Linked DNA regions of Homo sapiens. The protein of the gene in region 3 interacts with the protein of the main gene of each other region in a pairwise test. Each region holds a gene or a part of one and is shown on either strand. Other genes may lie near its edges.

Region 1 (4,059 bases), on a different chromosome or scaffold from region 3:
AGCTGCTCGTTGGTGCCCACCCGCCACCGCCACCGCAGGATGGTAGAAGCGCCCCCCTCTCTGAGCCCAGTCTCACCGGCTCAGAGGCGCCAGGGCCCCCCCGGGGGCCGGGGCGGGCCGGGGAAGGTAATGTAATTCCGGCCCAGCTAACCCGATTACCGCGGCCTGCACCGGGCAGGGCGGCGGCGGGGGCGGGTCTAAGGCTCAGGGGCCCGCCCGCGGGGGTCCCATCCCCGGGAAGGACGCAGAGTTCACGCACTCCCGGCTCCTGGATTCATGGCCAGAGGTCACAAGGTCACCAAGCGGCTTAGGTCTTTCCCCACCTCCCTTCTCTGACAGCTCCAGGCCATTTTTTGAGTTTGGGTGGGGTAAAATGTTTATGGGAAACAAGGCGGCCAGGATCCAACCAAGGCCTCAGTGAGGTCCCACGTGTCCCCCGTGGCGAGATTTCGCCCTCCCGCCGTTGAGGAGGAAGAGTGTGAGAACAGACTTCCTAGGCACAGAATGGAGGGGCAGAGTCCTGCATTGAGGACTCCCTGCACTTGGGGTCCGGGGGTAAGTGCCAGCCCCAAGAACCCGCCGGCCTGATTTGGCCCGGGTTGAGCCATGGTCCGTTTTACACGGATTTTGGAAAATCGAAATTCTAGGAAACACAGGACACCAATTACCGGTGCGCATGAACAGGGCTGGGGGGACCTACAGGAGAGGCCAGAAGGCGCACCACGATCGCCAGCCCAAAGCGGCCGTTCCCCGCCCTTAGCCCCTGCCGTCCCCTTCCCACACCTGTTCTCTTCCTGGGCCTGCAGCTCACCGGGCGCCGTTCCCCAGCCGCTTCTTACGCAGCCGGGAAACCACAACGAGATTTGGTCTTCGAGAGCATTTAGGCGGGGACCACAACGAATCCGGGAGTTGGCCAGAAGGATCCATCGAGAGGCGAAGAGTGGGGGCTGGGGGAGGAGGCACCTGCGGAGGAAGCCGGTGAGGCGGAGGCAGCCCAAAGGCGGAGGCCGCCCAAAGGCGGAGGCCAGCAAGGATGGAGGCGCGGTGAGCATCTCCGCTGACTCAGCGGCCCATGCTCGGGCCCCTCCCGCGCTGAGCCTGGCTCCTAACACCCTGGCCCCCTGTCCCCCTCCCCGCACATCTCCGCCAGCCAGCCTTCCCCCTGCGCTTGGCGCAAACAGGCGTCCCTTCCCCTTTAACTGCTGGGCCCCGCCCCTGCCCTACCCCCAGCCCCCACTACCCACCCGGGCCGATCCGTCAGTCACTGCCCCAGCCGGAGCTGGCCAACCCTCTCCACCCGGGACTTGGGCAGCGGCGCCGGCAGCCCAGCGTCTATTTGCGCTTAAGAGCCAGCAAGGAAGCTCCAGGGGCCCCAGCTGGCCGTGCTCCCCCGGGATGCAAGTCCCTGCGCTGACGCCCGGCAGCGGCTGGCACGGGCGCGGCTGCTCCGGGTGCACAGGGATGCTGCTGTTTCGGGGACCCCGGCGCCCTGCCTTGGCCAGCCCCGCGGGCCCCTGAGGCCACTCTCCGGAGCGCGCCGCCGCTGGGCTTCTGGCGCTGCCTGAGGCATCCTCCCCAACCACCGAACCTCCGGCGGTTCTCCTCGGCCCAGACCGATGGAGCCGGGGATGCTGGGTCCACACAACCTCCCACACCACGAGCCAATCAGCTTCGGCATCGATCAGATCCTGAGCGGCCCCGAAACCCCAGGGGGCGGTCTAGGCCTGGGTCGCGGGGGCCAGGGTCATGGGGAGAATGGGGCGTTCTCGGGTGGATACCACGGAGCCTCGGGCTACGGTCCCGCCGGCTCACTTGCCCCGCTGCCCGGCAGCTCCGGAGTGGGCCCAGGCGGCGTGATCCGCGTCCCTGCGCACCGCCCGCTGCCTGTGCCGCCGCCCGCTGGGGGGGCGCCTGCAGTGCCTGGGCCCTCGGGTTTGGGCGGCGCCGGAGGCCTAGCGGGACTCACCTTCCCCTGGATGGACAGCGGCCGCCGCTTTGCCAAGGACCGGCTCACGGGTGAGGTTGTCTGACCCCTCCAGCGTCACGCCCGACTCTGACCCCGTCTCCTCATTTCTTAGCTTTCTGCTCCAACTCAAGGACCCCTTTCACACCTCCCACTAGATCCTCCCAGGGGATCCTCCCCCAACTCAAATCTCTGGGTCCTGCCTCCGAGAGGTGATGGGGAGGGAGCTGCCGTCGGTGCCCGCGCCCTCCTCTGTAGTCCCACTGTCCACGCGTGGGGAGGGGAGGGTGAAGTTACAGGGGACGTCTCCCTCGCATCCCAGGGGAAGGGCCTTTCTTGGCTATAGGGCTCGGCTGATGCTTAGGGCCCGGGTAAGGACAGGGCGCGGGAGTTCTGCGGCCTGGACAGCCGCGCGGCCTTCTCAGTGGCACCTCGGGCCACCCTGCAAATCCTGCCCTGGTCTTTCTTCCTCCCGGTAGCTGCGCTCTCGCCCTTCTCTGGGACGCGCCGCATAGGCCACCCCTACCAAAACCGGACCCCTCCGAAGCGGAAGAAGCCGCGCACGTCCTTCTCCCGCTCACAGGTGCTGGAGTTGGAGCGGCGCTTCCTGCGCCAGAAGTACCTGGCCTCTGCGGAGAGGGCGGCGCTGGCCAAGGCCTTGCGCATGACCGACGCACAGGTCAAAACGTGGTTCCAGAACCGACGCACCAAGTGGCGGTGAGGCGCGGCGCGGGCGAGGGCGGACTGGGGTTCCCGAGCAGGGCCTGGTGAGAAGCGACGCGGCGGGCGCCCCGCTGACCCCGCGTCTCCCTCCCTTAGGCGCCAGACGGCGGAGGAGCGCGAGGCCGAGCGGCACCGCGCGGGCCGGCTGCTCCTGCATCTGCAGCAGGACGCGTTGCCACGGCCGCTGCGGCCGCCGCTGCCCCCGGACCCTCTCTGCCTGCACAACTCGTCGCTCTTCGCGCTGCAGAACCTGCAGCCCTGGGCCGAGGACAACAAAGTGGCTTCAGTGTCCGGGCTCGCCTCGGTGGTGTGAGCGACGCCCGTCCGATCGGCGTGGAGCGCCGGGCCCGGAGCGGTGGAGCGCGCGGCTGCCTGCGTCCATGGTCTAGTGGCAGCCGGGCGCGTGAGGAGCGGCAGGCCTTGAGGCTGTCGTCGAGGGCTCCTCCACCACCGGCCGGCTCCCAAGCCAGCGTTGCGCAGATGCACGGCCAGCTCAGAGGCGGCCTTTCCCGCCATTTTTCACTTCACTGCCGTTACGCCCTCGCTGGAACCTGAGGCGCCGAGAGGGCGGGACCTGCAGGACAGTAGCCAATGAGGTGCGGGGAGGGGGCCGGGCTGGCCAATGGGAGCTGCTTTCCTGAGGGACTCGAAATTCTCCGGCGGGTGGTCGGGAGCTGGGGCTCTGAGGGGCTCTAGCGGCGTTGCGCGCGGTGCCGGCTGGGTCTGTACCAAAGGTGTGAAGGAAAGAAGACACCGACCACGGCGAAGCAATAGAGGGGGTGCTGGAGCGCGAGAGGCTGGCTGATTGTGACCGAAACCAGAGGGTTGTCCACCCCGGGCATCTCATCCCTCAACTGTAAAATAATCGCTAAGGATTCCTTCCTGACTTTGAGCCTCACGTTGTCATGTGTGTTCAGCCTGCTGGCCACATCCTCCGGCAACACGCCCGGGCAGGAGGCGAGTCGGATACTTACACACCCAACGAAAGAGAAAATCTGGCTCCGGTGTCACATAGGGACAGAGAAGGGAGAGGAGGAAACAGTGGACAAAGTTAATGGGCCCAGTGGAGTTAGGGTGAAGAGAATTTGGAAAATAATTTGGAAGTGACAAGCTTAAGAAGAATCAAAGGTAATTCCAAGACTGGAAATGTGCAGCATCAGGAAATCAATGGTGCTGTGGATGATGAAAGGGAAATTGGGAAGACTGGAGCAAAATTAACTGTATAGGCAAAACTAAATGTTATACCTAGAGAGAATAAATCCTGGAGAAGTGCCTTTGAGGGAGATCAGCTGACATCCACATAGAGGTGGACCTAGATAGAATGAATGAGAACAGATAGAATCTCTGAGGGAGGGAACTCTTGAGGAGAAAAG
Region 2 (3,500 bases), on a different chromosome or scaffold from region 3:
AGATACGGTGTTTTTTTTCTGTTTTCTTAATGAGAAGTCCCGATACTGACAAAATGACCTCTGTTTAATTAAAAGTTAGTAATCTTTTGCAGTGGTGCCCAGCTTGGTTACTTTTTCTTGAGTTTAGGTTAGTGCTCTGCTAGGCAGTAACTTTTAAAGTATCTTTCTCCTCTGAAGGTAGTAAAATGTGCTTCTCCGTTTTTTTCTTTTTCAGCACATGGATTAATTGATGTATGTTGAGTTTATGGAGCTGCCTTTTGGTGGCTTGCTTTATCTGCAGTTTTTAAGAAGAAAAAGAAGGCCCTGAGTCAAAGAAGATGCCTCGAACTAAACAAATTCATCCCAGAAATCTAAGAGGTAAAGCATTGCATTAAGTAGAAGTAAGGCTTGCTGTAAATCTTTTAACAAAGTATCTCTTTGGTGACAGGAATGGCCGTTTGTTAGATGTTGACCCTGCCTGGTGAGGAGCGCTATTTCTCTTGCTCATTTCCAGCAGTCCTGCACAATTCCTGTCTCTCAGGAGATACTTAATAAATATCTGTTGAATGAATGAATTGAATTTGACGAAATTACAGTGCATTCCTTCCAAACCATTAGATGGGGTATTAAAGGCTGAAAGTTGCTATTTGTTAATAGGAACCATATTTGGGTCAAGGAATCTGAAAGTAATGGTTAAATATTCTTTGCCAACTGGATCATTAAGAATTTTATGTTTTTTTTTCACTCTTCCTCCATAGTTCTTTTGAGGTTTATTTTTGTACCACTCCATCAGTTAGATTAACAAGATAAGAAGTGAAGAGAATTGTAGGCATTCACTCAGACCATTACTTGCAGAAGTCAGAGGCAAACTGAGTTATTTTCCACGAAGAAGCAGTGGGTCACAAATATATATATGATACACATTTCATGCAAAGACAGAAAAGTGTGTGTTTTCCATCAACCGCGAATACTTTTAATAGTAGAAAAGTAAGTGTATTCTAGCTTATTGTTTAAAAAGATTTGTATTGTTCTCGTGTTATATCAATGGTGAATAGCAATTATCTTTTATATTAAACTTCAGGAGATAAGAATGTAGTAGTGCTAAAAACAAGAACTATTAAAGCAAATAATTCCAAACTGACTATGGTGTTTTATGAAATATTTACCATTACAGAAAAAAAATTCTGAAGCGTATGTAGGGGAGAAGTGACTTAAAAATCAAATAAATTAATTTGAAATGTTTTTTGGTAAAATCAATTTGGCTAGTCACCATAAGGTGATCTTTGAAAATGCAGTCAATTTTATGGCCTCCGTGAATCTGGAAATAGTGCTTGTTTCCTGTCTAGAAATCTCTGTTGCCTCAGGTGGATGCCTCAGCCTAAGTTCAAATTGATGATTGTAGTAACCAGTGTTCAATGAGGTGGAGATTTACATGAGAACAAGTGTGGTGTGTGGAAATCTGATTTTTTATAGTCATATAGAAAACGTTGAAAATTGAATGTGTTTGCCCGTCCCCCTCACTAGAATCTGAACTCCCTAGAGACTCACTCTCATTTGTTACTGTAGGAAAAGCCTCCAGACCCAAGGGTACCAGCTGAGGTGGGCATTTGGAGACATGGGCCCTGCTTTATCTGTCCAGGGAGGGCACCCTGTTCTAGTTTGCACAAGTGCAGCATACAGATGAGCAGCAGCCCTAGCCCAGCACAGTTCCTGGCAGCTAATGGCAGCCCAAATATTTGTTGAAGGAACGAGTGCATGATTGATCTGAAGGTGTTATTTATTAGGCCATAAGTATTAAACATTTTTCATATTTAAAATATATGTTCATAACATTCTAGATAAAATGACTATCCTGAGAAACACAGATTTACAGGCCATAGGCTCTTTTCCTTTCTGTATCAAATAAATGTTCAACTCAGCACATGTTTGTTACTGTGTCTGGAATTGGTGGGTTCTTGGTCTCACTGACTTCAAGAATGAAGCCACAGGCCCTCGCCGTGAGTGTTATAGCTCTTAAAGGTAGCGTGTCCACAGGTTGTTCCTTCTGATGTTCAGATGTGTTTGGAGTTTCTTTCTTCTGGTAGGTTCGTGGTCTCGCTGGTTCAGGAGTGAAGCTGCACACCTTTGCGGTGAGTTTTATAGCTCATAAAGGCAGTACAGACTCAAAGAGCAAGCAGTAGCAAGATTTATTGCAAAGAGCACAACAACAAAGCTTCCACAGTCTGCAAGGGGACCCAAGCAGTTGCAACTGCTGCCTCCGGCAGCCTGCTTTTATTCTCCCGTCTGGCCCCACCCACATCCTGCTGATTGGTCCGTTTTACAGAGAGCCGATTGGTCTGTTTTACAGAGAGCTGATTGGTCCATTTTGACAGGGTGCTGATTGGTGTGTTTACAATCCCTGAGCTAGACACAAAAGTTCTCCAGGTCCCCACTAGATTAGCTAGATACAGAGTGCTGATTGGTGTATTTAAAAACCTTGAGCTAGATAAAGAGTGCTGATTGGTGTATTCACAATCCCTTAGCTAGACATAAAGTTTCTCCAGGTCCCCACTAGACTCAGGAGCCCAGCTGGCTTCACCCAGTGGATCCCGCACTGGGGCCACAGGTGGAGCTGCCTGCGCCTTGTGCCTGCACTACTCAGCCCTTGGGTGGTCGATGGGACTGGGCGCCTAGGAACAGGGGGCAGCGCTCATCGGGGAGGCTGGGGCCGTGCAGGAGCCCATGGCGTGGGGGGTGCTTAGGCATGGCGGGCTGCAGGTCCTGAGCCCTGCCCCACGGGGAAGCAGCTAAAGCCCGGCGAGAAATCGAGCGCAGCACCAGTGGGCCGGCACTGCTGGGGGACCTGGCGCACCCTTCGCGGCTGCTGGCTTGGGTGCTAAGCCCCTCACTGCCCGGGGCCTGCCAAGCCCACGCCAACTGGGAACTCTAGCTGGCCTACAAGCGCCACGCGCGGCCCCCGTTCCTGCCCGCGCTTCTTCCTCCACACCTCCCTGCAAGCTGAGGGAGCCGGCTCTGGCCTGGGCCATCCCAGGAAGGGGATCCCACAGTGCAGCGGCGGGCTGAAGGGCTCCTCAAGCGCGGCCAGAGTGGGCACCAAGGCGGAGGAGGCGCCGAGAGCGAGTGAGGGCTGACAGCACGGTGTCACCTCTCATTACTACCTTCATGTACTTCATGTTCTTATGATAGGGATAAAATGATAAAACACAGGTCTCGAAAGAAGAATGGAGTTGAAGAGCTGATAGGTAAACATGTAACTATGTACTATGGTGAGAAATGAATAGTATGGAGATTCCACAGAGATAGGGAGTCATTATTTTGTCCCCATTGTAGGGGGCGCAGTTTGGGGTGAAGCAGAATGATGATTTAGGGAAGGAAAGTTAACACCTGGATTTGGTTCTTAAGGCTGGGAAGTTATCTGCGAAGCTGACAAGGCAAAGTGAGTGCATTTCATCCTGGGGTAGCAGGTTGTGAAATAACTTGGGGACTCTGAGCAACTTTAAATGGTTCTCTACTTCTAGAGC
Region 3 (3,500 bases):
AATAGCCACCCAGAGTGCAGAGTTATCTAAGAGAAATGTAGAAGGACTCCCAATAAACCACCTCAGAATTGTCACTGCCTCATTCAAGCTGCTGGACAATTTTGGAAAGAATCATTTACACCACATCTTAAGTTTCCACAAAGAAGAACTCAAACTCACATTTTAAAGTACATAAAACAAAAAGTTCTAGGAGGCCGGGGGCCAATTCCCCTTGTGCCCCTCCTTTGACAACAGTGGACAAACACCCCTGAATTAATAATTAAGACAAAAAAGGAAGAAAAAAAAAGTGAGTTAAGATATTGAAAGAGAGAAAGAAAACATCTTTAGAAAAACACGATCACTGTCTCTTTAAAAGAAAACAAAATCCCAGTTGGGAACAGTAATGAGGAATATGCAATCTAAATTGACACCTGGTGGGAGATTATTATTGAATATTATGTACACTCAGAACTTTTTTCATTTTCTTTTTTATTATGAACACCTAGGCAGTGAAAACTGTTATGTTAATACATACATAGACACACCCAAAACATACAAAAATACTATTATTTCAAACTACTAAGAATAGGACAGTTCAATTATTTTCATGCTATGACTTTAAGAGCATTACACTGAAACAAACAAGAAGTTAAACGACATTTTTTTTTTAATATCCCAGAAATATACCAAAATATACATCTAAGCTTTGGAATTACTGAGGTTAGACTAATGCAAGTGCTGGGTAATCGTACTTAATACACGAGTCTAAGGTTCTGCAGGAAAGAAATTATCTTTGGTATCTGCATCAGGCTAATATTATTAACATTTGGATTTTGCTTTGGGATAGAGCTTGTGTGACCCAAGAACCAAGTACCCCCCTCCCCCAACCAACTGAGATTAAAAAGATCCATGTAAAAAGTTCCTTCATTTGCAATCCCCCCACCCCCCAAGTTAAAAAGTCACAGGCATCTACCTAGCACAAAAGGTTGTGAAGTACAATGCATAGTTGCACAGTGGTGCTGCAAAAAGGAAAGAAAACTACAATAAAGAGAAATGAAAAGCTTGATAATCTTTCTGCATGTTTTCTCACAAACAGGACAGCCACTTCCAAGCAGTTCCAGTACAGGAAAAGAAAAAAAGGCTCAGAAGGGCACCGTGGCGTGCATTCGCCCAGCCCCAGAGGTTAAAGCACCCAGCAGAGCAGCCAATCGTGCGCCAGTGTCTTCAACGTCCCCCACTCTGTGGAGTCCTCGGGCCAGTCCAGCAGCAGCTCCCACCCTCCCTAGGCCCTGTGCTAAGTCCCCATAGTGACCCTGGTTGGTGTAGGGTGGATGATGGTGGTGATGGGGTTTTTTGACTTTTGTTTTGGAAAATCTGAAATGCCAATTTGTTTCAGGGCATGCTCACAAGTTTGTGAGGGCCAAAGCTAGGGGCATGCACCTGTGCTGGACCCTGGAAGGTGGTAAGCAGCTTGCCTGCCCTTTCTGATCCAGTCAGAGGGTCCCCCCGCCCCACCTTCCCTGGCCTCACTCTTCTAAGTGCCAGGACACCACAGACTGGACTGATGCTGAAGACTTCCCTTTTCTTTGGTTCTTTTGTTTGTTTTGAGTTTATACAATCATTAAGAAATCTTTGGTTTTGGCTGGAAATTTGAAAAACAAAACAAAACAAAACAAAACAAAGAAACCACCCTCCCCTGGCTTATAGCAGCAGTATCATGACCTGGCTAAGCTTTTTGTCAGCATTAGGGGTGGGAATTGAAGGTTGGGAACTACATTCAAAGAAAAGGTGAAAGGGCTGGGGATGCAGCTTCTAGAGAGCCCATTGGATATAAGATTGTCAAATAATAATAATAATAATAATAAACTTAAATATTTGGATATTTTTGGTCATGTCAAAGGAAAAAAAGTGAAATGTGTATGCAGCAGTCAGCTTAAAGGAGCCTTTGGTGTCTTCCCTTCTACCCAAAGTCCTGAAAAGAAACAGAACCCTGAGGCCTCAGAGGAGAAGGGGTTGGCCTCTACCCCACCAAGGAAAAGGCAAGTACAGAAGTTGACGTGTGGCCAGCTGTCAGAAACACAGGGTGGGTTAGGGGTGTGGATAGCTGGCCAGCCCCTAAAGGCAGGGTGGCAGGGAAAGCAGATGTTAAGAGACCTGTGAAGACCCCTTGCAACAAAAAGGAATAGAAGATTGCAATTTGCCCTCAGTTTGCAGTAGCTTTTAAGCAGCGACATTCAGAGGCTTTAGGGGGTCCCACCCTAGGCTACAGGTCCCATGATGCTATAGGCCAGAGTTTAACATGACTGAGGAGGGAGGGCAGACTTGGCAACTCTGTAGGATTTCGAGAAAGTTAAAGCAAGTCACTCGGTCACGAGTTAGAAATGAGGTATACAACAGCTCCTGGACTTCTGGTGGGTAGAACAGCCCACGCTTACTCACCTAGCCTTCACTACTACCACAGATGAGGGGATGGAAGTACAGACTTATGCGGGAGGAGAGCGTTTCCTGCGGAGTGAGACCTCCTGCGGACTGAGCAATGCACACGTGCCCATGCACGCAGAGGTAAGAAGCTGGAAGTCTTTCTTTCCCCGACCTGACCTTAGGGAAGATACAACATTTATGTTGTCAAAAGCCAATGTTATAATATGATTGCAAAATCTTAGGCTTCCTGCACCAACCTGTTCCATGTTCTCCAACTGTTTGCAGTTTTAAACCTATTCAGGCTGGCACTAGTCCACTCTACTCTTACAAAGTGTGTGCCTTCTGCAGACTCACGCAGGAATGGAACCAAGGACATGGCATCCCCGACTGCCTACAACTACAGCCTTTTGTAGCAGACACTGTCATTTTAGCTTCTGAAAGTGCATTTCATTTCTTCCTATACTTTTAGACCATGAGACTCATTAAGGCTGGGTGGGAGCACAAAGTCTTTTCTCTACTTGGCTCTGTCCTTTTTCATTTGAAAGAGATCCCAATCTTAAGAAACTCAAGTGTTTGGACGTCTCATTTATACACAGCGCTGTATCCAGCTGTCTGCCTGCAGACTTTGGGATATAATGTTTGAGAACTCAATGCCACTGCCAATTTATGAAAGAAGCCTTAAGCTGCTCTTGTGAAGCTGTGGCTAACTTATACAATGATGAACAAGTACACAAAGAAAACAAGGGAAAACTTTGCAGCAGTCCTCAATGTTTTTTACAGTAAATTAGTTTTGGGGTCTTAACTTTTTGACAGTGTCCTGGGTTTAAACCAGAAGGTGGCCCTGGGTGGTGGAGCCCTGTGCAGGGTGGGCAGATACAGGGACACAGAAACAATCATAAATCACATCTTCCCTACCAGGTCCAAGGGACCTTTGTTTCTGTGCTCAAAGTGGTGTTCCATTACACACACCTTGTTTTCCCAGAACTTCTGTTTCAAGTGCTCTAATCTTCAACATCCCTATTACCTACTTATAAACCTATCTAGCACTTTGACAAGTCATACAATATTAATACCACCTTTACATAATGTCAGAACAATAA
Region 4 (3,500 bases), on a different chromosome or scaffold from region 3:
ATAATGTATAACGCAAATCCAGTTGAAATCTCAGGTAACCCTAAAAGCTTAGGGCTACATCTCAACTTTTATTTCATTACTGACAGCTTCCATAAGAGCTAGAATGGATACTTCAGAATTCAAACAACTAAGAACAGTCAGTCAAAAAAACAAACAAACAAAAAAAAACAAAAAACCCAAAGTCAGCATTTGTTTTGAAATGAGTTGCCTAGAAATTAGACTTGAAAGTAACAGCTAGGGAAAAAAACAAATTTGGGGCATCATAGCCTGAATACTTAAATTGTCATAGATTAGGTAATAGAAATCTATTAGGTACAACATTTGCAACCCCCAAATGAAGGATATCTAATTAATTTAAAAATTCATTCATGTGGCCGGGTGCGGTGGCTCACGTCTGTAATCCCAGCACTTTAGGAGGCTGAGGCCTCCACCTGAGGTCAGGACGACTCCATCTGAGGTCAGGAGTTTGAGACCAGCCTGCCCAACATGGTGAAACCCCGTCTCTACTAAAAATACAAAAATTAGCCAGGCGTGGTGGCTCATGCCTGTAATCCCAGCTCCCCGGGAAGCTGAGGCAGAAGAATCACTTGAACCCAGGAGACAGGTTGCAGTGAGCCGAGATCACGCCATTGTACTCCAGCCTGGGCGCCAGAGCGAGACTCCATCTCAAAAAAAAAAAAAAAAAATTCATTCATGTTTCTATCTCTCTTTTTCTATCATGCTACTCTGAATTTGGCCTTTCTCCAGAGCCAGTAAAACCTGCTAAAAGGCGAAAAATGATAAAACTTAATTTGCTGTTTAATGTATTAAAATATTTCTTCTGTAAGCCTTTTTAAGTGCCTCCCAACCCCCCACCATCTACCTTCGATCTATTTCAAAAAACTATAAAATCACCACTCAATGGTGTGATATAGTAATCCATAGGTATTCTAAATGTATTAGATTAATAAAATATACCTTGAACAACAACCTGGCTGCCTGGGACAAAGAACTGCTGTGTGCCATCAGCTGATTGTGCTGCGTACTGTACAATTGTAGCACCTGGTGGAGGAGCTCCTGAATTTGTCATTGTTAATGCCTGCAGTCCCTGAACACCATCAGATCCTGGGTTAGAAATCTGGATTGTTCCACCTTGGGCTATAGCAACTTAACAGAAAAAGAAAAGAAATATTAGAGAATTTCAAGATTTATTTTTAATAATCCCCTATTGGAAGAATATACTCTGGGTCTATTTATTACCATTGCTTCTTTCTCAGGTTACCCTTATTTTCTATGCTGAATTGAGAAGGAAGATCAGCTTCGTCATGGGACGATACTCTAGGAAAAGCTTATAAACACTTGAAAATATTTTATATTCAGAAATGTTTGAGATTCATAGAGCCCATGGAGTGTTCCTCCTCCTTAGCATCCAGCTGACTACATCACTCAAGAGGAAGAGTGGAGAAGGAGACAGGGAGAGTCCAGCTTCCTGGTTTTCTCCATTCTCTCAGATGTTTTTCCTTATAAACACCATTCTTCTACCATTTAAAATTCCCATTTAAGGCCAGGTGTGGTGGCTCATGCCTGTGATCCCAGCACTTTGGGAGGCCAAGGCAGGAGGATCACTTGAGCCCAGGAGTTCAAGGCCAGCCTGGGCAACACAGGAAAACCCTGTCTCTAAAAAAAGAAAAGAAAAGAAAAGAAAAATTCCCATTTAATATTGCAATTAAAATGAATTTCTACCTTCATTCAGCTAACTACTTTTCTGATTTGTCATCAAAAGAAAGTAGTTTTTAAGAAATATATAGGCAAGGTGCAGTGGCTCACGCCTGTAAACTTAGGACTTTGGGAGGCCAAGGTAGGCAGATCACCTGAGGTCAGGAGTTTGAGACCAGCCTGATCAATATGGTGAAACCCCGCCTCTACTAAAAATACAAAAATTAGCCAGGTGTGGTGGCAGGTGTCTGTAGTCCCAGTTACTCGGGAGGCTGAGACAGGAGAATCACTTGAACCCGGGAGTTGGAGGTTGCAGTGAGCTGAGATTGCGGCACTGCACTCCAGCCTGGGCAACAGAGACTCCATCTAAAAAAAAAAACCAACATACATATAATTATATATGTTATATATAATTATATATTTTATATATATAAATATATAATATATATTATATATTAATATATTTATATATTAATATTAATATATAATATATATTATATATATTATATATTAATATATTAATATATTTATATATTTATATAATATATATCATATATATTATATATTATATATATTATTATATTAATTATATATATTAATTATATATAATATATATTATATGTGATATATATTATATATTATATTATATATAATATATAATATATATCACATATAATATATAAATTATATATTTATATATATAATTTATATTGTATTTATATATAACATATATTTTAATAATTATTATATTTTTATAATTATTTATATTTTATATATAATATATAATTATATATAACATATATACGTATATATACCTATATATGTATATATGTTATGTACAATTATATATAACATAATTATGTTATATATAATTTGTTATATATTATATATAACTATATATAATTATAACTATATATAATTATATATAGTTATATATGTTGTATATATGACCAAAATTTTTAATATATATTTATTATAATTATATATGTCATATGTTATATATAACTATATAATTTACATATATTATATATTTATATATAAATATATATAAAAACATATTTTGGTTATAAAGCTAAAGTCTAGAAAACTGTAACCTTTGCCATTTTGTCTATGTCAGGAGAATCCTGAAATATAAATTGTCAAGTTGCAAAGGTCCTTAAAAAGTAACTGTTACTAAAAGGATTTGTGCTACAATATTTACCTCTACCAAGTATCTCAAGTAACTACAGCTAATGGCAACAAATAGGAAGTAGATTTCCTTTAAATACTGAGATCTGCCAGTCATGTTTAAAAGTTAACATATTAATTGACTTGAAGCTTCCAAAGAATAACTGATCAAACGTTTTGTTTCAAAATTTCACTCTAATAGACAAGTATTATTTAAAATATCTGAAAGGTCTGTATATTTTAACATAAAGATTCCAACTGCATGCTTCAAACAGTAGATATTAAATGGTACCAGAGGCTATGCTTTTTAAAAAATCACATATAAACTAGCTAACTAGGCTTTACAATGAAGATTTTAAAAACACATCACCAGAATAACATGACATCTATACATCAATGTAAATACCTTACAGTAGCGTAACAGTAGTGTTTAAAATACACTCTGAATATTTTCAAGTCATTTCCAAACGTTTTTAAAGGCATCTAGGCAAAAAAGCACTTAGGCGATAACCTGATAGGACAAACCTATGAGAATTATGGAAAGAGTAACAACAACAAATTTTCACTTCTTTCACCTAAGGTGCCAGTGTCTACACAGGAAGATAGATTAACATTTTTAAAAAGACTTCCACATGCTG

What was found.
Region 1: the proteins of POU2F1 (region 3) and TLX2 interact in a two-hybrid assay, tested with the Homo sapiens proteins (one large-scale study listed by BioGRID and IntAct).
Region 2: the proteins of POU2F1 (region 3) and HIVEP1 interact in a two-hybrid assay, tested with the Homo sapiens proteins (one large-scale study listed by BioGRID).
Region 4: the proteins of POU2F1 (region 3) and CREM interact in binary tests that used the Homo sapiens proteins (3 or more experiments, as listed by UniProt).

Annotation. Positions count from the first base shown.
Region 1 is NC_000002.12:74,513,191-74,517,249, forward strand, and holds TLX2 (T-cell leukemia homeobox protein 2), read left to right. Parts: upstream 1-1,259; 5' UTR 1,260-1,616; coding exon 1,617-2,016; intron 2,017-2,442; coding exon 2,443-2,680; intron 2,681-2,782; coding exon 2,783-2,999; 3' UTR 3,000-3,958; downstream 3,959-4,059. UniProt on the Homo sapiens protein: Transcription activator that binds DNA elements with the consensus sequence 5'-CGGTAATTGG-3'. Binds DNA via its homeobox. Required for normal cell death of enteric neurons in the gastrointestinal tract.
Region 2 is NC_000006.12:12,015,312-12,018,811, forward strand, and holds part of HIVEP1 (zinc finger protein 40), read left to right. Parts: intron 1-214; 5' UTR 215-317; coding exon 318-357; intron 358-3,500.
Region 3 is NC_000001.11:167,423,386-167,426,885, reverse strand, and holds part of POU2F1 (POU domain, class 2, transcription factor 1), read right to left. Parts: 3' UTR 1-3,500. UniProt on the Homo sapiens protein: Transcription factor that binds to the octamer motif (5'-ATTTGCAT-3') and activates the promoters of the genes for some small nuclear RNAs (snRNA) and of genes such as those for histone H2B and immunoglobulins.
Region 4 is NC_000010.11:35,185,846-35,189,345, reverse strand, and holds part of CREM (cAMP-responsive element modulator), read right to left. Parts: intron 1,147-3,500; coding exon 958-1,146; intron 1-957.